Linked DNA regions of Homo sapiens: regions 2, 3, 4 and 5 are each linked to region 1. Evidence: fine-mapped expression QTL. A gene starts in region 1. Each other region holds a variant in brackets. All regions are shown on one strand. Distances are between the middles of the regions.

Region 1 (5,105 bases):
TCCCACGATGTGTGGGGATTATGGGAACTACAATTCAAATGAGATTTGGGTGGCGAGACAGCCAAACCATATCGACCTATATTCAAATTCACCGGTTCTTTCCTCAGCTATGTCCAGTCTGCTGATAAGCCCATTGAAAGAATTCTTCATTTCTGATACGGTGTTTTTAATTTCTAGCCTTTCCATTTCACTTTTTAAGTAATTTTCCTCTTTCTGCTGAAATTCTCTATATATATTCATGCATATTGTTCACCTTTTCCACTAGCTTTATAAGCATATTAATTCTAGCCCAATATATGGGTCATTTCTGAATCTGGTTCTGTTTTACCTCTTGATTTTTTCTCCTCTCTGCTTTTTTGGGTGTCTTTTAATTTTTGATCAAATGATGGATATCACATGTAGGAGAATAGTAACAACTGAGGTAAATAATATTAATGTCCAGAAATAAACATGCCTCTTCTGTCCAGTCAATAATGTGGGTAGTTGAGTCAATCTAGTCAGGAGTTGTGCTGAATTTGGGTTTTGTTGTTGTTATCCTTGCCTTCACTCTGTACCACAGGCTTCATTCAGATTCCTCTAGCAGGGGGTTACTATTGCATTGTTTTAGTGTGGAACCTAGAGTGCTGGGGAGTTTTTCTCAGTGTCCCTCACTCAGCTTTTAGCAGTGTTTGCATGCCTGTGTTACAGAGAGGTCTCTCCCCACTCTTTTTCCTCCTCACTAGTTGACTGGTGTTGTCACTGGTGCTTGGCTTGTAGTGGGGAAAAGGGGTTTTTCACACTCCTGGTCCTGCCTTGGTTTTAGGCAGGCCCTGTGCACCTGAACCTTAGATGTGGGGCTTTCCCAGTATTCCTGACACTTTCCCATTGCAGCCAAATCCTTCCTTTATCTGTGGTGAGTCTTGAGTGAGAGAGGGTTTCCCAGCAGTAGCCAACTTCAATTTTCTATTGGTTCAGGACACAGAGCCCTAGTGTTTCCTGCTCCTGCTGCTCCCCAAAGGGCAGAAGGTTTGTGCTTCTATCTCTTCTCCAGAAGCAGGGGGTCTTTGCCAGGATCCTGTTGGTGGTAAAGCTTCCTGCCCTTCCCCCAGTGGATAAGGTTTTCATACAGAAGAAAAGTTTGGAGAGGTTAAGTGGAATTTCATGATTGTCCCCCAGTGACAGAACTATCACCTCCTAACATTCTTGTTATCTCCGGAAAAATATTTATTGCTTATAGAGAAAAATGTGGTGTTTCAATATAGCTTCTTTACAGATATTTACTAAGGATCTGTGATATAAATAGCACTTTAAATATTTAGTACATTGCTGCCTGCCCTTTTGTTTCTCCACCAGATATATCTGTAGAAAATACATTCATCATTCAACAACCCACCTGTTTATTTTAGCTACTTTCCATAGTGCCATCCAAAATTAAACCAAATCAAAATGAATGTGGTTAGGTACAAAAGCTGTCTTGCAAGAAGCAAGTGCACACCGCACCTGGGAATACAGGAAAGAATTGGATCAGGGCTCTGCTGTTTCTCTGAAGACAGGCTTCACTCAAGTAATGATGGTTTATTTTTAAAAACCATCCCTCTGAAGAGTCCCTTACAAGGAAATTTCTTAACTTTTTAAAAGCCATACATGGTGTACACATGGTGCCAAGTGCTTAAGGGCAGTTGGTTAAACCTTTCTTTGAGGGCAAGGAAAGCCTAGTCCATCCTACTCAGACTTTTAGGAAAAATGAGGCTTATCTATTTTTAACAGGATAATTTCTGTTACTTTGGGTTCTCTAAGATATCTCACCAAAAGACCAGAATTAGAGAAGACTGTCCTAGTTAAGTATGGAATATTGAGTCAAATTAATGGGTTCCAGGTCCTGTGGAGGGAATGTTCTTTAAAATATATGTATATCTCCTAATTATCAGTATTAAGATCATTCAGGTTATATGTTAATTTAAAAATATATCTATTACATTAAGAAACTTTTTTTTAACATAAGGTAATTTTAAGAGAACCTTGTCATGTTGGTGAAGGAACATTTTACGAGCCCCTCTGTACTCTGAAATGCCGTGTCCGAGATTAGACATACAAGTCAGTGTTACTTAAGCGGCCAAATTTCCAATTTGTTATTGCTTGTTACCAAATGAAAGTAAAAAGATAAACAGAAAGGTAAAATAAAGAAACTGGCTTTTATGTATTTTATTCACAAAAAGGGCGTTTGCCGAAGGACCTTCCCATTCACGGGCTGTCACTCACAGGTGCTCGGAGAATTCAGCCTCCAAATCCGCAGGTCACAGGTCAGCCAAGTTTTAAGAAACACTCCGGGTTAGCGACTCTTCCTCTCTGCAACTCCCACCCCTGCGCCGAGGGCAGCGGGACACGGCCGGGCGGTCCCCAGGGGAAGATGAGGCCCTGGACGCCCCGCGTGCGCTGGAGGCCCGGAGGCCAAGGCCGAGGCCGAGGCCGAGGCCGGGAGCATGCCAGCGGGGTCGCGCCACCGAAAGCTCCTCCGGCCTGGGCCCGCCGTGCCCCGAGGCCGCGGGCGGAGGCTGGAGCAACGAGCCCAACTCTCCCTCCGCCCCGGGGAGGCGGGGTCTCCGCCTTTCCCGCGTTCGGGCCTCACCGCCCCCTCCGCCTTCTCTGAGCCCCCGCGCCACTTCCGCTCCTCGCAGCGGAGCCGGTCCCCTAGGGCTCGGGTCGCACGGAGCTGACCCCTAACGAAATGGGGCCGCGCCAAGGGCGGTGGTGGCTGCTGCTCTGGCTGCCGCCCCTGGCCACACTGCCCGTGCGCGGGGAGGCGGCGGCGGCAGCGTTATCAGGTAACCCGGGACCGGCGGCGGCGGCGCGCGCGTGCGTGCTCGCTCCCCGGCTTCGCGGCTGCCCTGAGGGCGCGCTCTTTGGCCCGGGCGGCACCGCGAGGCCCACTGGGGCGGGCGCTCCCTTTTCTCGCTTTGGGGTCTCCCGGGCAGGCCCCGCCCGCCCTTCCTGTCTTACTGGGCTTCCGTAGTCTCTCGCCTGGCAGTTGGACATTTTGTAATTTTAGAATTAGAAGCAACCGCGCGATCCAGTCGCCCAATTCCCTCGTTTTACAGAAGCAACCGAAACTCAGAGAGGTTTTGATTTGCCCAGGGTCACACAGCTTGTCACTGGCACAGCTGACCCTAGTCTCCAGACTTTCAGCACACGGCCTTTTGTACAGTACATCAATGCGTGTTGAAATCCTTGTTATTTCACTATCTCGCATTCCTTTGGTCTCAAGACTAGAGAAGGTAACAGCTTCAGCTTCAGAATCGGAGCGAAAATTCTTCTGCCCCTGACTGTTGTGACCTTGAGCGAGTAAACATAACGGTCCCACGTGAGCGGCAGGTAATGAGGCCTCACAAGGTTCTTGTGGTGTTCGTGTGCACAATGCCTGGCACACAGGAAGCAAGAACTGGTAGCGGCTGCTAGCTGTAGGGGCTCGCCACGGAGTGGGCTTAAGATGCTGGCACACTGGGGAAGGATCTGGGAAGGACACCTGGGGAAGTCAGAAACCTAGAGTTCCAACTCCAGACCTGCCGCTAACTTACCATGAGCTTCACATTTCTGTTTCTTTTTTTTTTTCCCCTCATAAAATCTTTTAAAAGATTTCCTGGGTGCACTGTCTACCAACTTCCCTTCCTTGCTTTGGCTACCCTGGTTTCAAGGGAGGCTGCCAAGTGTATTCTTTTAGCTGGGCATGGCCCTCCCTCCGGTTATACCGCGGTTTTTTATCTAAGGATGAATGAGAGACTGGATGTTGATGAGGTCATTATCAGATTCTGCCACAGCTCCCAACTGAGGGAATCTTGCAGTGAGTTATATGTTGGGGAAGTGTTGGATTCCAGTTTTCATTGAAGAGAAATTTTTTGAGTGTTCAGTATGTGCTAGGCAGTGTTATAAGTGCTTTAACTGCAGTATCTATCATATTTAATACCCATAGAAGCCCTATGCGGGAAAGCACCATTTTATACCCATTTTACAGATGAGAAAACGAAGGTTTGGTAGTAAGAAATACAACAATTTTATGCTGGTGAAAAAATAAAACACAAATCTGTCTAAGCAGGAAGGTTTCTGGGCATGGCAACAGCGAGAAAATTAGAAGTAGCCTTAGACCAGCACCCAGCACCTTGGGTTCTAGACCACTCATTCCTTCAGCCACAACTTGTGGTATAACCTTGGTCCAGGCACAGAGTCTTTATGGACCGTAGTTTTCTCTTGAGTAAAATGAAGATGTTTTTACTGAAGAGTTTCCAGTATTTTCCTCACCTCAGTGAACCTGGTGTTTTTAAAGTTTTTATGTTACCGCATTTAGTATAATAGTAACAGCCTGCTTCTCTGCTTTGTTAATCAAAGACACACATAAATACTTATTGGAGCTTCTGTTCTGCCTGAGACATGCAGGATGCCCACTGACTTGATAAAACTAGTCCACAGCTAAGAAGAATGGCAACTTTTGTAGCCTTAGAGGGATGCCTGCCATTCCGGTAGGCTTTCCAATACGGACTGTGAAGCGCCCAGCATCTGGTAGTGTGCCAGTGACACTGTTGGCAGCCCTGGATTAGACTAGGCTTAAGAACCATAGCTGCTCTTTAAAAGTCTATGGTTTCTTGAGGACCCTGAGAGGAAACAGCTGGTACTTCCTTTAAGCGAGGGGCTTGGATTAGTGATACCTAAGGTGCCTTCCTGTTCTAAAATTTTGTCTTGAATAACACACACTTCAATGGAATGGAGAACATTCAGACCAACCCCAGCTTTCTGTCACTCTATTTGGAGGAAAGTCAGAGACAGTTGACACAGGAGGAGCAGGTAGTTGTCTGACTGAGAGGAGAAACTTCAAGAGTTTCCCATAATTTTCACCCAGTTAGTGAGGTCCCTAGAAACCATGTGTTGTCCTGAGATGAAGTTCAGGCCCTGTCAGTGGCTTTCCAGGCTTAAACTATAACAGTCCATTTGACACCACAGCTTTAAGATTCATCTGTGAAGATTTGAACTTGAAGTTAAAGACCTGAGTGTGCATGAGTATATACTAATTCCAGTTTCATTCTCATATTCTTGGAGAAAGAAAAAGATGAATATTCAGGTTAAAAAAAACTGAGGTTAAG
Region 2 (5,105 bases), 32 kb before region 1:
AGTCTACCAAGAGCTTCCAAATGTGTTCTCTCATTTACTGCTTATCTCCTGGTATGGAAGATGTTAAAGATTTTTAAAATTGGGAAACTACAAGCAACAAAGCTAAAATTCAAAGTTCTTAAATGTCCTCATGCCTGAATTCCTTCCTGGACTTTCCTTTTTTTATTTAAAATTTGTCTCAAGGTAATGGCCTCACAACTCTATAAAATCAATGGCTTAGTAATAATTACAGTGAAAATCAACTCCTGTCCTGCTCCCCAAAAGAAACCACTCTCAAGCTTTTCTCTTTTTAGCGTTTAGAATGTTTGCCTCCATATCTCAAAAATACATATATTGTCATTTTTCTTTCTAAAATTGTTTATATTTTCCATCTAAGTTATAAATGCACAGAGCTTTAAAAGCCAAATAGCTCCTCAAAGTCTAAAAGACAAAGAGCAGCCCTTTTCCCTGTACAACCTGCATGTTCTAATTCCATTTCCATTCCCAAAAGCAAACTTGCTCAAGTCTTTCAGTGTGAGCCACCACACCTGGCCTCAGCTGTTTCTTTTGGTGTTTATCTCCACATTTTAAACTGCTGTTTCTTGATTTTTTTTTCAGTTCCAGATATTATTATCTATGACTCCCTTCTGTGGGAGATACGGATTTAGTCTCTTACATTCTCTTCTTATTCTTTCAATATAGTTATATTACAGTGTTTTTCTCTGATAATTATTGAGTTTTTTGTTGTTTTGTTTTGTTTTGTTTTGAGATGGAGTTTTGCTCTTGTTGCTCAGGTTGGAGTGCAATGGCGCAATCTCGGCTCACAGCAACCTCCGCCTTCTGGGTTCAAGCGATTCTCCTGCCCCAGCCTCCAGAGTAGCTGGGATTACAGGCATGCGCCACCACGCCCAGCTAATTTTGTATTTTTAGTAGAGACGGGGTTTCTCCATGTTGGTCAGGCTGGTCTCGAACTCCTAACCTCAGGTGATCCACCTGCCTCAGCTTCCCAAAGTGCTGGGATTACAAGCGTAAGCCACTGTGCCCGGCCGATAATTATTCAGTTTTTACATAATTAAAATGACAAATATTATTCAAAACTGAGGCATATATATATAAGATTATATTGACACTTTTGGTACAAATTCCTATTTTCCCAGGAGTTGATTATTATTTTATTTGTTTGCATAATTTTCTACATGCCTATCACAAATTCATTCCCTATTCTTCACCAGAAGTGTAAACCTCCTCTTACTGCATTGATTCATAAAGTATTCTACAACAAATGATTTTAATTTCCTTAGTGACATCCTTACTAGAGCTGTGTGTCCTGTATTAATCTCACTTGTTGCTCTCCAGGTTTCCTGCAGAGCTGCTATGCTCAAATCACCTTCACAAAGATCATGTAGATTCTCTTTTCATCTGTAAGGTGATAGATCCCCCATTTCTTGGATCCAATGTCTTCCTCTTTCTTGTTTTCTTCCCCTTATTTTCTTAGATTATATCCTGCAGTAGCTTCCTGTAAAAGGATACATGAGACATAAGTTTTCTGAATTCCTCTGTTTGAAATTATCTTTATTCTGCTCTCACACTTCATTGATAGTTTAGCTGGGTATTGCATTCTAGGTTTAAAAGAAATTATCCTGGCTGGATGCAGTGGCTCACACCTGTAATCCCAGCACTTTGGGGGACCAAGGCGGGCGAATCGCAAGGTCAAGAGATCGAGACCATCCTGGCCAACATGGTGAAACCCTGTCTCTACTAAAAATACAAAAATTAGCTGGGCATGATGGTGCATGCCTGTAGTCCCAGCTACTTGGGAGGCTGAGGCAGGAGAATAACTTGAACCCAAGAGGCAGAGGTTGCAGTGAGTCGAGATCATGCCACTGCACTGTAGCCTGGTGACAGAGCGAGACTCCATCTCAATAAATAAATAAATAAATGAAATTATCCCTCATAATTCTTAAGGCATCGTTCATTGCTTTCCCTAGTCCAATATTGTAGTTGAGCAAGCAGTCTGATGCATTCTGATACCTACTCTTAGCATAAGACTAATTCTTTTTTCTTCTTCTGAAAGCTTTTGGGATTCTCTCATTATTCCCAATGGTCTGACACATCTCAATGATGTGCCTTGGTGTGGGCCGTTTTTTATTTGTTGTGTTGAGTACTTGGTACCTT[C/T]GATTTTTAGACATAGCCTTCAGTTCTGGGAACTTTTCTTGTATACTTTTTCCTCCATTTCTTCTCTTTCTTGAGCTCCTTGTAGTCAGATATTGTTCCTACTAGATGGATAGTCTAAGTCTCATACCTTTCCTTTCTTATTGTTAATCTACTCATCTTTTGGTTCTATTTTCAGCAGACTTCCTCAACTTTATCTCCTACTCCTACTACTGAAGTTTTTAAAATTATATTTTTAGTTTCCAAGAGCTCCTTCCTTTTTTATCTAATTGTTCTTTTATCATCGCATTCTGCTTTTATTTTATAGATACAAATCTCATAATTTTTCAGGCTATAAATTAGCATTTAAACAGTATTTTTCTATTTTCTATAGTTTCCCTTTATATTCCATTTTCTGTTTTTCATGTTTCCTCCTCTCTTTTAGGTTAGAGGTATGATTTACATGCCTCATGGTATTTTTTTGCCGACTTATATTTAAGAATAGAGCACTCAAAAGCTGACGAAGAGCTCTGTGTGGGTAGACGGTGTTTGTAGAGTGATGGGTTTCACTTTTGTATGGTATGGAAAACCTGTTATCTGTTGTATATTTAACTTTTTTGGGGAAAAAACCCCCTATATTTCCTAGGTGAGTGACTTCTGAATCTTTCTTTCCTTCCTTCCTTTCTTTTTTTTTCTTTTCTTTCTTTCCTTCTTTCTTTCTTTTCTTCCCTCCTTCCTCTCTCCTTCCTTCCTTCTTCCTCCCCTTCTCTTCCCTTCCCTTTCCCTCCCCTCCCCTCCCTTCCCTTCCCCTTCCTTTCTTTTTTATTTTCTTTCTTTTCTTTCCCGTTTTAAGACAGAGTCTTACTCCTGTAGCCCAGGCTGGAGTCAGTGTTGCAATCACAGCTCACTGCAGTCTCGACCTCCCATGTTCAGGTGATCTCACACCTCAGCCACCACACCCAGCTAATTTTTTGTACTTCTAGTACAGACAGGATTTTGCCATGCTGCCCAGGCTGGTCTCAAACTCCTGGGCTCAAGTGATCCTCCCACCTCAGCCTCCCAAAGTGCTGGGATTACAGGCATGATCCACTGTGCCCAGTAAACCTGACAGTAAGAAATTCTTTTTCATCAAGTCCCAGTCAACACACTCACATATATTTATAAAGACAAAAATGTTTTGTGAAACAATATTTACTTTCTCTTCATAGAATGCTCTCTGACATTCTCTATCTAGTCTACTGAATTTTATTTTCTTTCATGTTTGTGATGGACCATTATATATCCATTAGATACACTGCAATGAAGGGACTAGTTGCCCCAGACTGTGAGATGGCTGCTGGTGGGGACTCTTCAGTTGTTGGCCTTTTCAGGGATTGCTTCAGTGCAGAGCTGCCTTGCCCAGGGTCATACTTCCTGTGGCCATATCCAGTAAGGGTTGGGGGGTGGGGGGAGATATTAGTTTTCTAGGGCTGCCATAACAAAATGCCACAGATTTAGTGGCTTAAACAACAGAAATTAATTTTCTCACAGTTCTGGTGGCTGGAAGTCTCACTGTTCTTTGTACATGTGGGTGTCCCTGTGTGTCTTTCTCTTCTTATAAGGACACAAATACTCCTGGATTACTGCCCTATCCTAATGGCTTTGTTTTAACTTAATCATCCTTTCAAAGAGCATATTTCCAAATAAGGCTACATTCTGAGGTTCTCTGTGTTGGGACTTCAACATATGAATTTTGGGGAGATGCAATTCAGCCTATGACAGAGAATAAAGTCCTGGACATCTTGGCCTGGTGTGGGACAACTCTGAAAAGCCAGTCTAGCTTCAGTGCTCCTCGTGGGGCTGGGTGAAATAATCATTGGGTCTTGTATCACAGCTCGCATTCTCTTTTTGTCCAATTCTGTATCCTTCCACAGATATTGGTCCCAAGGACAAACCCTAATAAATGTTCTGAACTCTCAACTCCACCTCAAAGTCTGCTTCTCAAGGAACCCAACCCAAGAAAATGTTGGTTATGACCCATTAAACAGATTTTATACTCCACTAATCATAACTGAGTTCATAACCCACAATTTAGAAACATTGGCCTAGGGGTTAGTTCCCTGATTAATAGTGCTTTCATTGTGTAGGAGGGGAGAGAGCACAGATAATCCAACCATTCCCAGTGCAGACTTGCAATTCATTTGATTGTTTAGGTCCTCCTGCCTTCTTTCTTCTATCAGGCTTGGTTTTTCTGATGCTCAGGCCATTCCTACTGGGTGTCTCTTGATTAAAAAAAAAATTCGTATTTCCTCCTGGAGCAGGAGGGAGTAGCTTGGCTGCTGATATTCTGTATCTGGGGCACAAGAGTAGTTGACTGTTCCATACATAAGCTTTGAACTTATCTCAAACTTTGCACTCCGTACCTCACCCCCACTCTCTGCCAAGACTGATGACTCCAAGTCTTGAGCTTCCTTCAGGTCTTCAAGGTGAAATGTCTTATTTATCTTCAGTACACCCCACTGCACACACTTTAGACTATGGCTTTCTCTCCTTTTACATCAGTTAACCTTCCTCCATTCTCTTTCCAACAAATATTTATGAAATGTCTCATCTACTCATCACCCCTCTCCTGTTCTCTATTGAGAGAAGAGATATAAGAGATATGCCTGTGTTCATTCTGCCATCTTTAGCGAGAATCCAGCAACTAGAAACTTAGTGGCAGTTCTATCACCATGTGGCAGTTGAATGAGCCAAGAGGTCCTTACTTGTCTCTTGCTTTTGCACCCAGCTTGCACCTTTTTATATGTGGAGATTTTTACGTGAGAAGCTTTGCTTTAGGTGGGGATACAAAGTTAAATCATATAGATCTGCCTTAAAAGTCCTATGAGCCATTAAGAGCTTTAAGATTAAATATGATTCAAGAGAGAAAGTGATAAAATACATAAGAGGGCATAGCAAATTTTTGTGGAAATTTAAAGGAAAGAGTAGTTGTATTC
Region 3 (5,105 bases), 65 kb before region 1:
GGCAGGGATTGTGTCTGATTTTTTTTATTTCTACTGCCGTTGCTTAGAATTCTTAGTACTTGGTCAGGTTAGTAAACATTGGTTGAGCTGAGTTATAGAAGGAGATGGCCTGGAGTGCTTAGCTCCTGGGATTGCCCTGGTACCTGGAGAAACAGATTCTTTGGCATATAAGAAGCCCAACAGTGACCACAGGTTTTTATCATTTGCGTTAAGTATCATAACAAGTAGTTTCAGCAATCATTATTTTCATGGAGTTGCTCGGAAATTATATTTTTATTTCCTTATATGTATATGTCTATTATCAACTTACATAGGTTTCATTCCAGATGTTTGGATTTGGACAGTACACATTTCTTAGCACCATCAAACCAGCACCCTTCCAGGAGCTTTGAGTCAAGACCAACGTAGGCCTGCCATTGCCACATTGTTACACAGCATTAGTTTCCTAGGGTGGCCATAACAAGGCACCACAAAGCGAGCGGCTTAAACAACAGAAAGCTATGGTCTCATAGCTCTGGATGCCAGAAATCTGAGATCAGGGTGCAGACAGGGCATGCTTCCTCCGAAGGCACTATGGAAGGATCGTTCTGGGCCTTTCTCTTAGCTTCTGGTGGTTCCTTGGCTTGTGGCAGCATAACTCCAATCTTCACACAGTGTTCTCTCTGTATATGTGACTGTCTCCAAATGTTGCTTTTTATAAGGACACCTGTCATATTGGATGACAGGCCCACCTGACTCCAGTATTACCTCATCTTAAACTAATTACACTTGCCATGACCCTATTTCCACATAGGGTCACATTTTGAGGTACTAGGGGTTAGGACTTCAACATGAATTTTAGGGAGATACAATTCAACCCACATCAATTGTTTGTACTTGCTCAGCTTTCTGAGCAGCCTTCTCAGGAAGGTACTAGCACTGTGTGACAAGTGGGCAGGGATGCTGGCCGCCAGGGCTGGGGAACACACCACTAAGACCTGACCACATGTTGGGCCATGGCTGCCACCGCACATTCCTGCACTGTCTGAGTCTGTTTTGTGTTGCTATAACAGAATACCTGAGGCTGAGGTAATTTATAAAGAAAAGAGGCTTATTTGGCTCACAATTTTGATGGCTGGAAGGTTCAAGACTGGGCATCTGCATCTGATGAGGGCCTCAGGCTGCTTCAACTCATGGCAAAAGGTGAAAAGGGGGCTGGCACGTGCAAAGAGATCACATGGCAAGAGAGGAAGCAAAAGAGAAACCAAGGAAGCCAGACTCTCTTTAACAACCCAGTCTCTCAGAAACTAATCCATTCTCCAGGAAAGCAAGGATTCACCCACCCCAAGGAGGGCATTCTTCCCTGCATAAAGAATCCACACCCATGACCCAAACACCTCACACTATGCCACACCTCCCAACAGGGCCACACTGGGGGTTAAATTTCAACATGAGTTTTGGCGAAGACAAATGACATTCAAACAATAGCACACGCCAGACAAATAATTTCTAGTCTGGCAGCACTAGCCTCATTCTAAGACTAACACTGATAACCCTCCCCTTGTACTCTACTCTACTGAGTCCCCTTTCCTCCCCCAGTATCTTCTAGTTGGGTTTTAACCTATTTCTTCCTTCTCCTTGAAGAGCCAATAATCAAGCAATGAGAGTTAGAAACAACAGGAAAAGGAATGAGAGGAAGAGCAAGAGGGAATGTTTGTAAAATACCACTGCTAAGATGGCAAGTGTGTTGTGTACTGTGACATACAGAACTAAGATAAGAAACCTTCGAAAACTAATTTTCTAAGGTTCTAGTTGCTCTGTACCGCTCAGACCAGTGAGAGATGTAGGAAGTGACACACACAGGGGCAGCTAGGATGGCACTGTACAGCAGGAGAGTGTGTGTGAAAGCCGCTGTGCTCCCATAAACTCTTCACAGCAGTGCAGGAAGAGGTCATTGGATCTGACTCTTGCCAAGGATAGTCCTCCCAGGTGAGGGAGAGGGAACATGATTGGGATGGGGGGATGGGGCACTGCAAGGTCGGTGAGTTTGTGAAGATGACTTGCCTAAGGGACAGTGAAAATAGGCCCACGTGCCATCTTTGTCATCCCTGCTATAGGTAACAGACACCTACTCTTGGAAAGCTTCCAGTGTAGTTTCGATGCATAGCGAGCTGTGAACACCTGGCTTATATCATTTGGAAA[T/G]TTTTACATAACTCCTACACAGCCAAGTAAACCGATTCCTGACTAGGGGCACAGCACCTAAAGTAAAAGACACAGAATCAAAAAGCAAGTAAAAATTATAGTTAAAATTAAAATTTTTAAATGCATTGGCAATATTAATACTATTCCTACTGACTGATACTTAATATATTACTAATCAGTAGCAAATATGGAAAAATACAGTGAACAAATTATAGGCCAGAAAGTATATATTTTGTCCATAACTCATCTGAAGTTATAGACATTTCAAGAGTTTTACCTGTGATGTTCCTCGAGGCCTGCCATCTATCCAGATGAAAATAAAAGTTTAGCCCAAAAGCTTCAGCTTTTTTTCATCTACTTGATGCCAAGTAGTAAATAGTGACAGGAAACAGAATTCTCACCACATCTTTGAGTCATATAAGCTAGATGTGTAGTTTTGTACAAATCTAGCCTGCCTTTTATAGCTTCTCTCTTCTATTTCCTGATTTCTGTCCTCTATTTATAGATGGAGAAACTGATAACTTTTGCAGTAGTTAACCTTCACTAATATCAAAATAATGGAGAATAAATTACAGCATGATTTTAGAAGAAACACATCTGATTTTATGACTAAAATCTGCTTAAAGTTGGCACAAGTCCTGGCCCATACTCCTTGTTTGATAAATGTTGGTTGAAACAAATTGAGAAAAAGGGGCCTAGAGAGCCACTAAAAACAAAACAAAACACCATTTGCAGTGTTTTTCTATTATTTGGAGAAAAATATAAATCAAGATAAGATGTAAATGCTGAATAAGGGAGTACTCTTAAACTTCAGATTAAGGTATATTAACGTTAGTCACTCAAGATATGAGGTTTGGTCATAAGGTTATTTGGCAAGGTTAGTATTATATGCAAAGTACAATTTCACTGGTAGTAAAATATTTTAAGTCTGTGCAGCAACATGGCAACATGGATCTAGGTAACTATTACATTCCAATTTAAAATGGTTGCTTTGCTAGCTAGTAGATAAAATGGGTTCTTAAATTTGAGAATCGCAGTAAAGCCTAACTTATTCCACTAAAATGTATTTTCAGCAATGCCTCAAAGTAGTTTGCAAAGTTTTGGGGATGAAAGCAAAACACGACTTGATGCCATTCCAAGTGGAAGGCTGGCAGCGCCACAAGTTATGAAAACAATGAATGAATCAATAGCATTCTTTAAGACAAAGGCTTATATCCATTAAGAAGTGTAGAAAAGCAATTATAAGTTACAGTTTAAAATAATATTTGTAATATTGGCTTGCCTTGGAATAAGATCAATTTCCTAAAAACACTTGTAAGCATCTTTGAGTAACTTCCATAAGTAGAAGAATTTGGAGAATAAATATCTGAATTCTGGAGGAAGCCCTCATTTTCCTTATTCTCCCAAGAGTCTTCTCTTCCCTCTCACTAAAGGTCTTCATCTCAGCCTTAAACAGTGGTTTTCAACCAGGGGTGATTTTGCTCTCCCCTCCCCAGGAAACATTTGGCAATGTCTGGAAATGTTTTTGTTTGTCCTATGGGGGTTGTCGGTAGGGAGAGAGGGAAGGTGCTACCGGCATCTAGTTGGTGGAGTCAGGGATGCTGCTGAACATCCTACAATACACAGGATGGCCCCACAACGAAGAAGACAATGAAGAGGAATCTGTCCCCAAATATCAATAGTTCAGAGACTGAGAAACACTAGCCTAGAGGTATAAATGGGATAGGTGTGTGTATGGTATTGGAACATAAACAAGTAGAATATTTTCATAACTGAACTCTTAAAGCCCTTTGAAACCCATGTAAACTGGTGGCCTTACAAATCAGCAGTTCCAGTAGAGAAATTCCACTTTCAAATTGGATGAGCAAAGAATGCTCAGAGTTGTTTTTTTTTTAATTCTTTGCTCACCCCATCTCCTCAAATAAAAGTTCTGAAGAAAGCATCGTGATAAATAATCAGAGGCACTGTTTCTTTTATTCCAAGGTTTTAGAACTGTGGCTGTGCCTTAGCCTGGGATTCGCAACTACTGTGTTGGGCACCTCCATCAGTTTGGTTTTTATTCTGTCCTGGAAGTTTTTACTGTACATTTTAACATTGATTGCTACACGGACATTCTTTCTACTACCCCTTTCAGTTAGATGCTCTTTTTGTCTTCTCATTCTCCAGGCCCTCATCAACACAGCAAGTAATTTTCAGGTAACATTTTTTTTCCAAGAAAGTTATTTTGTGGATAGTAATGTAGTCTTTATTATTCACAAGCTCTAAGAGACTTCAGCCAAAAGTACAAAAACTATATTTATACTCAGACTTTTCCAATTCTTTTCCCAGGGCTTTTTTTTTCTCCCCTTTATCTCTTAGCCCAAATTCCTAACTCTTCACACAGTCTATTTTAGAAATTAGAAAGCTTTTTTTTTTTTTGGAGACAGAGTCTTGCTGTTTCCCAGGCTGGCGTGCAGTGACATGATCATGGCTCACTGCAGCCTCAACTCCCCAGGGCCCAAGCGATCCTCTTACTTCAGCCTGCTCAGTAGCTAGGACCACAGGAGCACACCACCACACCCAACTAATTAGAAAAATTTTTTTGTAGAGGTGGGGTGCCCCTATGTTGCCCGGGCTAGTCCTGAACTCCTGGGCTCAAGCTATCTCCCTGCCTCAGCTTCCCAAAGTGCTGGGATACACGTGTGAGCCACTGTGCCTGTCCAGAAAACTTAAAAGAAAATGCAAATAATCCTTTTTAAAAAGTTGTAAACACCCACAACATTTTTATGCTTAGTGACTTGATGCCAAATATATATATTCATGGGTGAATGAGTATGTTGGGATGTATAAATGTCATTTGTATATTTATATGCATTTGTATACCAGATTTCCAAATCTAGTTGTTTTCTCTTACTACCCAGAGACAGCAGCACCCCTGACATCAC
Region 4 (5,105 bases), 100 kb before region 1:
ACCTGCCTTGATCATCTCCACTCAAAGCTGCCCTCACCCCTTCCCCAGGTATCAAACCACCAGTGATGGCTGTCTTTCAGACCCATACAGTAGAAGGGGCCAAAATTTATTAACTACTTTTTGATTTTAAATTTTGCTTTACAATATCTTTTCCGGCATCAGTAGATTTCAAGTGATGCTCATTTCTGTCCTTCCACCCTCTCAGTTTGCCCAGCAGTCAAGGTTCGTTTTCGTCAGGACTATTGACATTGCTGTGAAGTTTCCTGTGGCAGGCTGCCCAGATGCTTCTGTCCAGATCCTCTGAGCACCAAGCAGTTACACAAGGCCCCTCTGTGTGGCTTATTGTCGCCTTCCACTCCCACTCACATACTGTGGATGGATAGGAGTTTTGATGCTAGGGTCAAAAATAGGCAGGTTACTTACTTAAAAGGTGGCATTTTGCAAGCAGAATGGATACTCAGAGAAGAAGATGGACAATGTGAGGACAATCAGAGGCAGGAAAAGATGTAAGGAATTTGGAACAGTCCAGGCTCCCCATGTAGCACAGTGGTCTGACAACTGGGAGTCCTCTCTGAGAAAGAAGGGAAGGCTCAGTGCTGCCGGGAGCACTCTGATTACTCCTTGCTCTGTAGGCTCTGGCAGCCCTTCAGACAACATCACTAGCTCCCCTGCTCCCGCTCCTGCAGTGTTTCATCCCTCTTTCTTCACTTACTTTCACCTCCCTCTCGGGCACCCAGTGTGTTACTGATGTCTGCATTTGTTTCCTGACAAGGAAGAACGTGATCTGATCCAAATATACCCAGAGGTATTAAGGTTGCAGTGTGCTACTTTTCCTAAGATGTTTATACCTGGAGACTATTTGCTTGTTCAACAATTAAGCACTGACTGAGGGATACACACTAAGCCTATAAGCACAAGAAAATTAAATCTCTGCCCTATTTCCTGGTCTAGAAAGCGGAATACACATGTAAACAAGCACTTGCACACATTATAAGATGTTCTTAGTCACACAAAGAAAGAGTGATGGTTCTGGTTTGGGTAGGGCAGAGGGGTGAAAGTCAGTAGGCCTTGTAAGCAAGCAACAATTGGACAGGTCTGGAAGGATGAAATTAATAGACTCAGGAAGTGCAGGCACTCCCCAGCAAGTACAGAAGCACAGAGGCAGTGAGGCAGCATAAACATGAGCAGTAACTTAGGGAAATTATTGTGAAATGAAGCATAACTGATTCCAAATGACTTGAGAATTACATGTGAAGAGGGCAGAGGCAGAAGATGAAATTGTAGAGACCAAATTGTGCAGGAGCCACCTCTGACACGCTAAGCAGTGTGGACTTTATCTTGTAGCTGTAGTTCTCAGCACCAGTGAGTGCAAGAATCAAGCTGTGAGTGTCAGACATGAGAATAGTAGATACAACTAAGAGAAGAGAGAAATGATTGAAAGGGGAACAAGGGGGCTTCTGAAGTGCTGGCAAGCAAGGCCCTCTTTCTTGTTCTGGACCATGGTTATGTGGATGTTCACTTTGTAATCATTGAACTGCACATTTATGCTTTCTGTACTTACTGTACACTATACTTCTCAATTGTGAAAAAGTATTTTTAAGAAAATCAAGCTGGATTATTTATTGAAAACAGATTCCAGGATCTCCCTGTCAGACATACTGATTAAGTAGGCCTGGGCTGGCACTTGGGAAATCTGTACTTTTTAAATGATTACCTTAGTGAAGGATCTGAAGCCAGAAGGGACCCCTAGACCACACTTGGAGAACACTGCTAGCCCTTTTGGGGAGCCATCGAAAAGATTTAAGCAAGATGCTAAGAACAGAGATTTGTCTGTCTGAATGTTCTGGATAAAGGGGGAGGAAGAAGTTGAGGGTGGCCTCCACCTTATGCCTTATTAGCACTTGCAGGTTCTGTGTCCCATTCCTTTTGTGTTTTTAAGAGATGTGACAAATAAGGTGCTAATGACTTATAAGTACTAAATATGATTTTTGAGATGTGTTTTCTTTTGGAGTTTTCTTAAATATGAAAATTTTGGACTTCAGCACTTTAGTAGCTGAATTTGAGACATGGAACAAGCCCCTGGGGTAGATATTCTGGGGTAGGGAGCAACTTTGTAGAATTTCTTAAATGAGGGCATTCTCAGCCTGTGAGTCATAGTTGTTCCACTACTGACCTACCGTCATTACGACATACGCTTAGTGATGATTGATTTGCATGGATGCAGTTAAATTCATTTTCTTATGCCCCTGTATAATCAGAGGGATATTTTTGAGACTTAAAGCCTCCAATATGGTATTCTTCCAAACTTTAATCCTTCTGAAAAAAATATAACAAGTTTTGTTGCAAAGTTTTTCCTTTGCTGCTGACAGTGATGGAAATAGAAAGAGGAAACCTTACTTGGCCTTAAGCAGAGAATGAGAAAATCCAAAAATCTGACACAAAATTTGCACAGATTTTTTTTCCTCATAATTAAAGTACTAAGGAAATGCCATAAGATGATTCTTTGTGAGCAGAGCTCATCCATTCATCAGATCAGTAAAAATTTTAAAAGTCTGACAGCACAAAGTGTTGGCTAGGATTAAGAACATAGAAACTGCCTTTAATTCCAATATTTTGGGAGGCCAAGGCAGGAGGATCACCTGAGTCCAGGAGTTAGCAACTAGCCTGAGCAATATAATGAGATCCCGTCTCTACAAAAAATAAAAACTTAACCAGGCATGATGGCACACGCCTGTGGTTCCACCTAG[T/A]GGGGAGGCTGAAGTAGGAGGATTGCTTAAGCCTGGAGTCCAAGGCTGCCGTGAGCTATAATCATGCCCCTGCACTCCAGCCTGGGCCGCAGAGTGAGAGCCTGTCTCAAAAAACAAACAACATAGGAACTTACTTCTGTTAAGAGTATAAATTGGTACAAACACTTTGGAGAGCAATTTGGTGGTATTTAGTTAAGTTAAAGGTGTGCATACTCTGTGACCCAGAAATTGCACTCCTAGGTGTAGTCTCTGAGAAGCTCTCTTACCTGTGCCCAAGGAGATACATACAAGAATATTCACAGCAGCATAGAAAAAATTGGAAATGATGTATATTAGATCAACAGAAGAATTTATGGGTAAATTGTGAAATATTCAATGAATATAGCTCTGAAAATGAATGAAATAGATATGCATATCTCCCATGGAAGAATCTCACAAACAAGATGTTGATCAAGTTGACCAAAAATCAAGTTGCAAGACCAGACGCAGTGGCTCATGCCTGTAAATTGGGAGCACTTTGGGAGGCCAAGGCAGGAAGACTTCTTGAGGCCAAGAGTTTGAGACCAGCCTGGGCAACACAGCAAGGCCCTGCTCTACAAAAAATAAAATTAGCCAAGCCTTGGTGGCACATGCCCATGGTCCTAGCTACTCAGGAGGCTGAGGTGGGAGGATTCCTTGAGCCCAAGAGTTGTAGGCTGCAGTGAGCTATGACTGCACCAATGCACTCCATTCTGGGTGACAGAGCAAGACTCTTGTCTCTTAAAAAAAAGATTGCAGATGAATGTGTAGAATATATTTCTATCTAGGTTAAAAACTTGCAAATGCTATTGTTGTGTGGGAAACAACAACCATTGTTGCTGCAATGGTAGCCTGTAAGTACACTAACAGGCAAGCTATTCAAGGGATCACAGAACAAGAAAGGCTTATGGACCAAAACAAAATCCTCAAATCACGTGGCTTATTAAATCAATTTAAAACACACCATAAGAAGCTAGGTGAAAGACATGGAGGGGGTTAACACATTTAAGATGTGTCACAGGAGGCAGGGTGGAAAGATGACAACACCTGAATCCTCAGTCCTGTCTCTCCCTGCCACATCAGCCTTCCTAACCAAGTGTTTGCTTGCAAAGATCAGAGTTGAGATTTAACCAAAGCAGCCCAACAGACGGGTGTTTAGGGTCAAAACACACAGTTGCTCTAAAGTCTTGGGAGCAGAGTGGGTCTAGCTGACAGCAGTAGCTCATCAGTTAACCTCATGAACAGCTATGGATTTTATTTATATTTCTTTTGCAGAGGATATGAGGAGCCAACGGTTGGCCAGATTAAAACCTTTTGAATAGGGAATGCCTGATATGCCTTAAGTATCTTCAGTGCGTCATGAAAGTTGGATGATTCAGGGCCTCACATGTATCATGACTATTAGGTGTTTCTTGTTCTTTCCATCTCTTTCTAATTATGTTCATTACGCAAATGCACTACTACATTTTGTAGGAATTTTGCTTGTTTCATAAGCTACTTGCTTCAATTCTTAGTTTCATTTTTTTCTCCCTATGTGTTTGTTTCTCTTATTTTGTATAGCAGAATTGAATATTCTTAAATAATTAAACAAACACACATTATAAATACATATGTAATATGGTTAAAATAAAAATAAATGCTTAGAAAGATTAATCCCCAAGTTCAGGATTTGCCTAACTATGGTAGAGGCATAAAGGGGTGCATTAAGGATGGAATTTACAGGACTTCAGTTATATTGGTAATGTTTTGTTTCTTAATATGGATGCTGGGTATGTGGGTGTTTATTATATTATTATTTATAATTTTATGCATCTGAACTTTTTAAAAATAAATTTAAGAAAAGTTTGAAATAGTAAATACCTGGAGTCTTACAACAGACATTTGATACTTTTCTTTTTTTTAAGACACAGAATCTTGCTTTGTTGCCCAGGCTGGAGTGAAGTGGCACAATCATAGCTCACTGTAACCTCAAACTCCTGGGTTCAAGCGATTTTCCTGCCTCAGCCTCCCGAATAGCTACAACTATAGGCATGTGACCACCATGCCTGGCTAATTTTTTAATTTGTTGTGGAGACAGGGTCTTGCTTTGTTGTTTAGGGTGGTCTTGTATTCCAGGCCTCAGGTGATCCTCCTTTATCAGTCTCCTGAGTCACTGGGATTACAGGTGTGAACCACAGTACCTGGCCTTATCATTTTTTATTTTAATAAAGTTAAAGAATTTGACTAGGCCAAGTTAATTGATATGTTATCTCTCTATTGCTAGGTACACACATGTGTTTTTTAACAAACATTTGCTGAGTACATACTATTTGCAAGGAAGGCATTGTACCAGTTGACATG
Region 5 (5,105 bases), 72 kb after region 1:
CCGGCTAATTTTTGTATTTTTAGTAGAGATGGGGTTTCACTATGTTGGCCAGGCTGGTCTTGAACTCCAAACCTAAAGTGATCCACCTGCCTCGGCCTCCCAAAGTGCTGGGATTATAGGCGTGAGCCACCACGCCCGGCCATAAACTTCTGTTTTTTAAGCCACCCAGACCGTGGTACTTTGTGGTAACCCAAGCAAATGAACACATTCACTCTAATACAGTTAGGGATTTGCTAATATAAAGGAATTTAAAGCATATTTTACTGGATCATTTTCTAGACAATCAAATTCTTTTTTATGCTGAATATGAGCATATGTTCAGGGTCCTAGAATTTTTTTACATAAGATTATACATAAGATTACTGATGTATAATCAGTAATCTTATGGGCACTGATGTCTGGAAATACAAGACACTGAAAAAAAAAGTCTCTCCACGAGATATAGATACCTACTGAACACCTATAATGATAAAACTCAAAAACAGCATGACTGTCCTATTTCAGAACAGGAAGTCAGTAGTAATAAAAATAGACAAGAAACAAAGGCAATTTTAGAACAGGTGGTTGGTAAACTGAAGTTATCTATAAAGAGGAACACAATTGATAAGAAGCAAATGATGCAGCAGAAAACACTACCCTGTGGAAAACCCAAATCACCTGCCACTCGTTTTTTATCCTGTATTTGAGCAAACTACAAGAGTAGGAGAAAAAAATTGTTACAGATTCTAATTTCTTATATAAGCACAATTCACAGTATTAGCAGTTTAAGCTGATTTGTGGTTATCTTATAATAAAACTGGTATTTTTTTCAAGAGTGTTCAAGATATAGATACAATGAATTATGAGTCATTCTGTAATTCCTAACAGTGTAGTTAGTTGTGAGACCCTACTTTTCTAAATTTAACCAACTATAATATGGCTAAATCCACCCTCCCCCACCCCCACCAAAAGCCACTAAAAACCACAGTGAACATAAATTTTGCTCAATAAACATTTATTAAGATGCCACTATCTACCATATACTGTGAGGGGAGTAAAAATGAAGAGGAAATCTACTTGGTCTTCAAGGGACTTACAGCCTAGTTGGGAAGACAAACACATAAACAAATAAGTTAAATATAATATACTAAGAGATATCCAAAGAGTGCAATGGGACCACACAGGAGAGACCCTTAGCCAACCCTGGGGGTTGAGGCCACCTGAGTTAGAAGTGGTTGGCCAAAGAGGGCAGAAAGAGCATCACAGGCAGAGGAAACAAAGCGAACAAGGGTTCACCATAGAATCTCAAGCATCTGTGGCCAGACAGGGTGACTGAAAGACACAAGAAGGATTACAGTCTAAGGATTTTTGAAGAAAGAAGTGAACTTTTCCAGTCCAGATACAGTCTGGATATTATTCCAGAAACAACACAGGGTGTGAGCAGCAAAGAAAGACCTAAGTGGAGTTATTCTACAATGCCCAGATCTGAGACGCAAAAGAGCAGCACCACCAGAGAACCCCTATTCACCTAATGACTGATGGCAACAAGCATTTTGCAAAGCCCCTGGCAGAGAAACAAAACTTCCCAAAATAATTATAATAATACACTGGATACAAATGAAAGACCCCAGATGAAGATTGTTTTTTATCACTTGGAAGTTCAGTATTTGCCGTTAGACTGACACTTGTCTACAGTTTGTGTTGCAAGCCCTCACGCAAAGATGCACGCACACCAATGCATACAAGGTTGCTCGAGGCCAGGGTGGGAGATGAAGACAGACCAGCAACAAACCAAGATTCAAAAAGCAATGTTTCAGACAGGTCACAGACCACTTGGGCAATTTCCTCAGCTATACCTGGCTGGAGTTTTTACTAGATTTCCTAATGAAAAGAGCTGGTTGTTGACACCAGATCCCTGGAGCACAGTCTACAGTCTGCCTCATATATAAACTGGATTACGTTTTCTGTATGGTAGACAGTATATGGTGCGCCCTTAGATTGGGCTCCATCATTCTCAGCTTTTTATTTTTATTTTATTTATTTATTTATTTTTGAGACAGGGTCTTGCTCTGTTACCCAGGCTGGAGTGCAGTAGCGTCATCACAGCTCAATGCAGCCTTGACCACCAGAGCCCAGGTGATCCTCCCACCTCAGCCCCCCAAGTAGCTGGGACTACAGGTGTGCACCATCACGCCAAGCTAACTTTTGATTTTTAGTAGACACAAAGTCTCACTATGTTGCCCAGGCTGGTCATGAACTCCTGGGCTCAAGCAATCCTCCTATCTCAGCCTCCCAAAGTTGCTGGGATTATAGGCATGAGCCATCCACCTGGCCCCAGATTATCCTTTTATGGTCTATATAAACTTGTCCCTAAAAAAAATTTTTTTTTCAGAATTGTTATAGATGTCTTCCTAGAGTAGGCAGAGTGGCAGACATCAGCTGCTGATTAGAGTGGAGACTCCTGTGCTCAGCACAAGCACTTGATGTGCCCTCCTCCCCAGGAATGAAGCTTATTTCTACATAATCACTGATTCACACTATTGACCTGAATAAGATGA[T/C]GTTCTCTATTGTCAGTTTAAGAGAGTAAGAAAATATATATCCAAACTCTTTAGAAAATAACTAAAATATAAAGGATAGGCCTTGAAAGAATTAAATCTTAGTCTAGAAAATTTGTTTTCTCATAACTGTCCCCCTCCTCCCAGCTATCTTCCATGATATGCTACTGTGGATATCTTGCCAGGATTTCTGTGTCCCTCACTAGCAGAATAGGGTTTTGCTGTAACTGTCTGGAATCTCTTGTCTTCTCTCCCCTTTTTTTGTCCTCTCCATGGCATCTCCTGCATCCTGTGTCCCACTCCAGGACTGGCTGGTTTGAAAGAACCACAGCTGGCATTCCTTGGGATTCCCATCCCAAGAAGGTGGCCTGAGTTACATCATGGTACCCTCCTCTAGTGCTAGAATGGTGGTAAGAGTGGCCAGAGAGGAGAGGAGACAAGGCCACAGAATCAGTGACCTGAGCAACAGGCAGGAGCTGCTACAGCTCATGTTCAGACCAAGTGCTTATCTAGAAGTAGCAGGGCTGACAGTATCTCTCTCCCTTTTTCCAAGATATGACTTGGGGCACTGGTACCTCTGATTTTGAGAGTCCCACTGTTGAAAGGAATCATCCCTTCCAAGAAGCCTCCCAAGATGTCTCCAGGTATAATTAGTCCTCCTGTCCCCCGCTGTTCCTCTGCTACACTCTTTGTTTCCATTAGAGGACTCATCACAGTCTGTTGCACACTGAAGACTGAGACCCTGGGAGACAACGGCCATGTCTTCTTCCTCTTTGTACTCAAAAAGAGCCTGCCTTGCTCAGGCACTCCATGAATCCATAACATCATTTAATATAATCTTATGTAAACTGATAAAATATGAGGGCAAAAGGAAGCATTACTCTCATGAAAACAGTATTTCTCAACAAGCTACTGTCATTTTGGATGGTGCAATTCTTTATTGTGTGGGATCCACCATTCACTGTGGGATGTTTAAAATCCCTGACGCTTGGGTGCTAAATGCCAGTGTCTGAAACACTAAAATTTGTCCTGTGCACATTTTTAAATGGCTCCTGTTGAGAACCATGAGGTAAATCTCTTAAAACAATGGTTATTCTGTTCCCATTTCTCCATAAAATGTCTGTATGTGTACTCAATATGGAATCAATTCATATCCATATTCACATTATATTAATACAAAAACAAACCAAGAAGGAGACAGACAGCAAATCACGAACAATGATTATCCTGGAAATCTGCGATGATAGGGCCCTTCATCGCCTAAGGAGTATATTTCTGTAGATTTTGAGTTCGTATAGTGAGTTATGTACTTCCTAATAATCACATAATAATAAAGATTTAAGTGGTAGGGAAAAAAGTACTGTCAAATTAGGCATGGGAAAGGCAACCTTTAAATTTTTAAATTAAAAGACTTCTGCTCTCAGATTGTTCTGAAAGTATATTAAGGTTCATGTTCCACACTAAAAAAAAAATTAAAACTGGTAGAAATCATAGATTGTAGATACTACAGTTTAAATGTCTGTATACCCTCCAAAATTCATATGTTGAAACTAATTCACCAATGTGATGATAGTATGAAGGAGGTGATTAAGTCATGAGAGTGGAGCCCTCATGAGTGGGTAAAAGAGGTGTGAGGGAGCTGTTTCCCCCTTTTGCCCTTCTGCCTTCTGCCATGAGAGAACACAGCATTCAAGGTGCTATCTGGGAGGCAGAGAACGAGGCCTTTACCAGTCACCGAACCTGCCAACACTTTGATCTTGCACTTCCCAGCCTCCAGAACTGTTTGGCATTTAAAGCAAGGTAAAAGACATTGCAGAATATTAAGTATAGTATTGTAATATTTATGTCAGAAAAAGGAAGTGACACATACAGCTACATACTTACATATGAACAGAATATCTCTAAAAGGATACAACACTAGAACCTCATATAATGGATAGTCTCTAAGGAGAGGAATTGGGGGACTGCCCAAGGGGTGGGAGAGAGACTTTACTAAATACCTTTTGAATGTTTTTCCAAGTGCATGTCTACTTTCTCAAAGAATGAACAGACATCAAGTCACTGTGTTTCATGCAGTAGAAACAGACCCATTAAATGATGTGTGATGTCTGACCCATGGTTCTCAACCTGAAGGGATCACTGTCTGGGTTTCTATTTTGGCTTCAAAACCATACAACATTCTAGCTAAGTTCATATTTAAATTATTCCTTTCTTTTGAAACTCTTGGGAGATTGGGTGTGGGTAAACCATCTAGTTGTCCAAAGAGTTAAGAAAGACATAGGAAATAGTGTTGCCATAATCATTTTCTTCCTGGACAAAGAAATGGTGTTCTGTGTCAGACTTAACAAGAGTGCTTGTTTGCTTCAAGAGCTGCATGGATCATCAGAAAGTCTACGTAACACAGTAGGAACATCTGCATCAAAATTGCTGATATGAAGAAGATTCTATTATAAAACATCTTTCCTTGTCACCTTGTCTGGCACAACACTGCCTAGCTCTCAGTCCTCCCACTCGCAGGGATGACAAATGGACTCACTCGGCCACCATCCCCACCTGTCTCTGTGTCTTGAT

Which allele goes with the higher level. Alleles are on the strand shown, and positions count from the first base shown. SD is a standard deviation of normalised expression in the study named. Not every link is listed here.
With allele T in place of C in region 2, the expression in testis of the gene that starts at base 2,638 in region 1 is lower (moderate effect, 0.65 SD a copy in GTEx).

What was found. PIP is the estimated chance that this variant, and not a neighbour inherited with it, causes the effect.
Region 2: its variant is fine-mapped to the expression of NEMP2 in testis (GTEx, PIP above 0.99). The same link has a PIP of 0.9 or more in sun-exposed skin.
Region 3: its variant is fine-mapped to the expression of NEMP2 in whole blood (TOPMed, PIP above 0.99).
Region 4: its variant is fine-mapped to the expression of NEMP2 in monocytes after Pam3CSK4 (Quach 2016, PIP 0.95). The same link has a PIP of 0.9 or more in monocytes after LPS.
Region 5: its variant is fine-mapped to the expression of NEMP2 in T cells (TOPMed, PIP 0.98).

The regions. Positions count from the first base shown.
Region 1 is chr2:190,532,255-190,537,359 of GRCh38, reverse strand. NEMP2 (nuclear envelope integral membrane protein 2) reads left to right here and starts at 2,638. Exons shown (of 9, transcript NM_001142645.2): 1 at 2,638-2,801. The coding sequence starts at 2,705. It overlaps NEMP2-DT (NEMP2 divergent transcript), which reads right to left and starts at 2,522. Exons shown (of 5, transcript NR_183903.1): 1 at 2,239-2,522. RefSeq lists a silencer at 2,325-2,974.
Region 2 is chr2:190,564,463-190,569,567 of GRCh38, reverse strand. It overlaps NEMP2-DT (NEMP2 divergent transcript), which reads right to left. Exons shown (of 5, transcript NR_183903.1): 2 at 1,293-1,495. It also overlaps a transcript of NEMP2 not described here. Among named protein-coding and RNA genes, the nearest start is that of NEMP2-DT, 32 kb to the right of the region's middle. The variant C/T (reference allele first, on the strand shown) is at 2,155.
Region 3 is chr2:190,596,758-190,601,862 of GRCh38, reverse strand. All of the region lies in intron 4 of NEMP2-DT (NEMP2 divergent transcript), which reads right to left. It also overlaps a transcript of NEMP2 not described here. Among named protein-coding and RNA genes, the nearest start is that of NAB1, 50 kb to the left of the region's middle. The variant T/G (reference allele first, on the strand shown) is at 2,182.
Region 4 is chr2:190,633,635-190,638,739 of GRCh38, reverse strand. NEMP2-DT (NEMP2 divergent transcript) reads right to left here. Exons shown (of 5, transcript NR_183903.1): 5 at 1-394. It also overlaps a transcript of NEMP2 not described here. Among named protein-coding and RNA genes, the nearest start is that of NAB1, 13 kb to the left of the region's middle. RefSeq lists enhancers at 1,218-1,287, 823-1,557. The variant T/A (reference allele first, on the strand shown) is at 2,748.
Region 5 is chr2:190,460,747-190,465,851 of GRCh38, reverse strand. The region is part of intron 3 of MFSD6 (major facilitator superfamily domain containing 6); the gene reads right to left. It also overlaps a transcript of NEMP2 not described here. Among named protein-coding and RNA genes, the nearest start is that of MFSD6, 55 kb to the right of the region's middle. The variant T/C (reference allele first, on the strand shown) is at 2,538.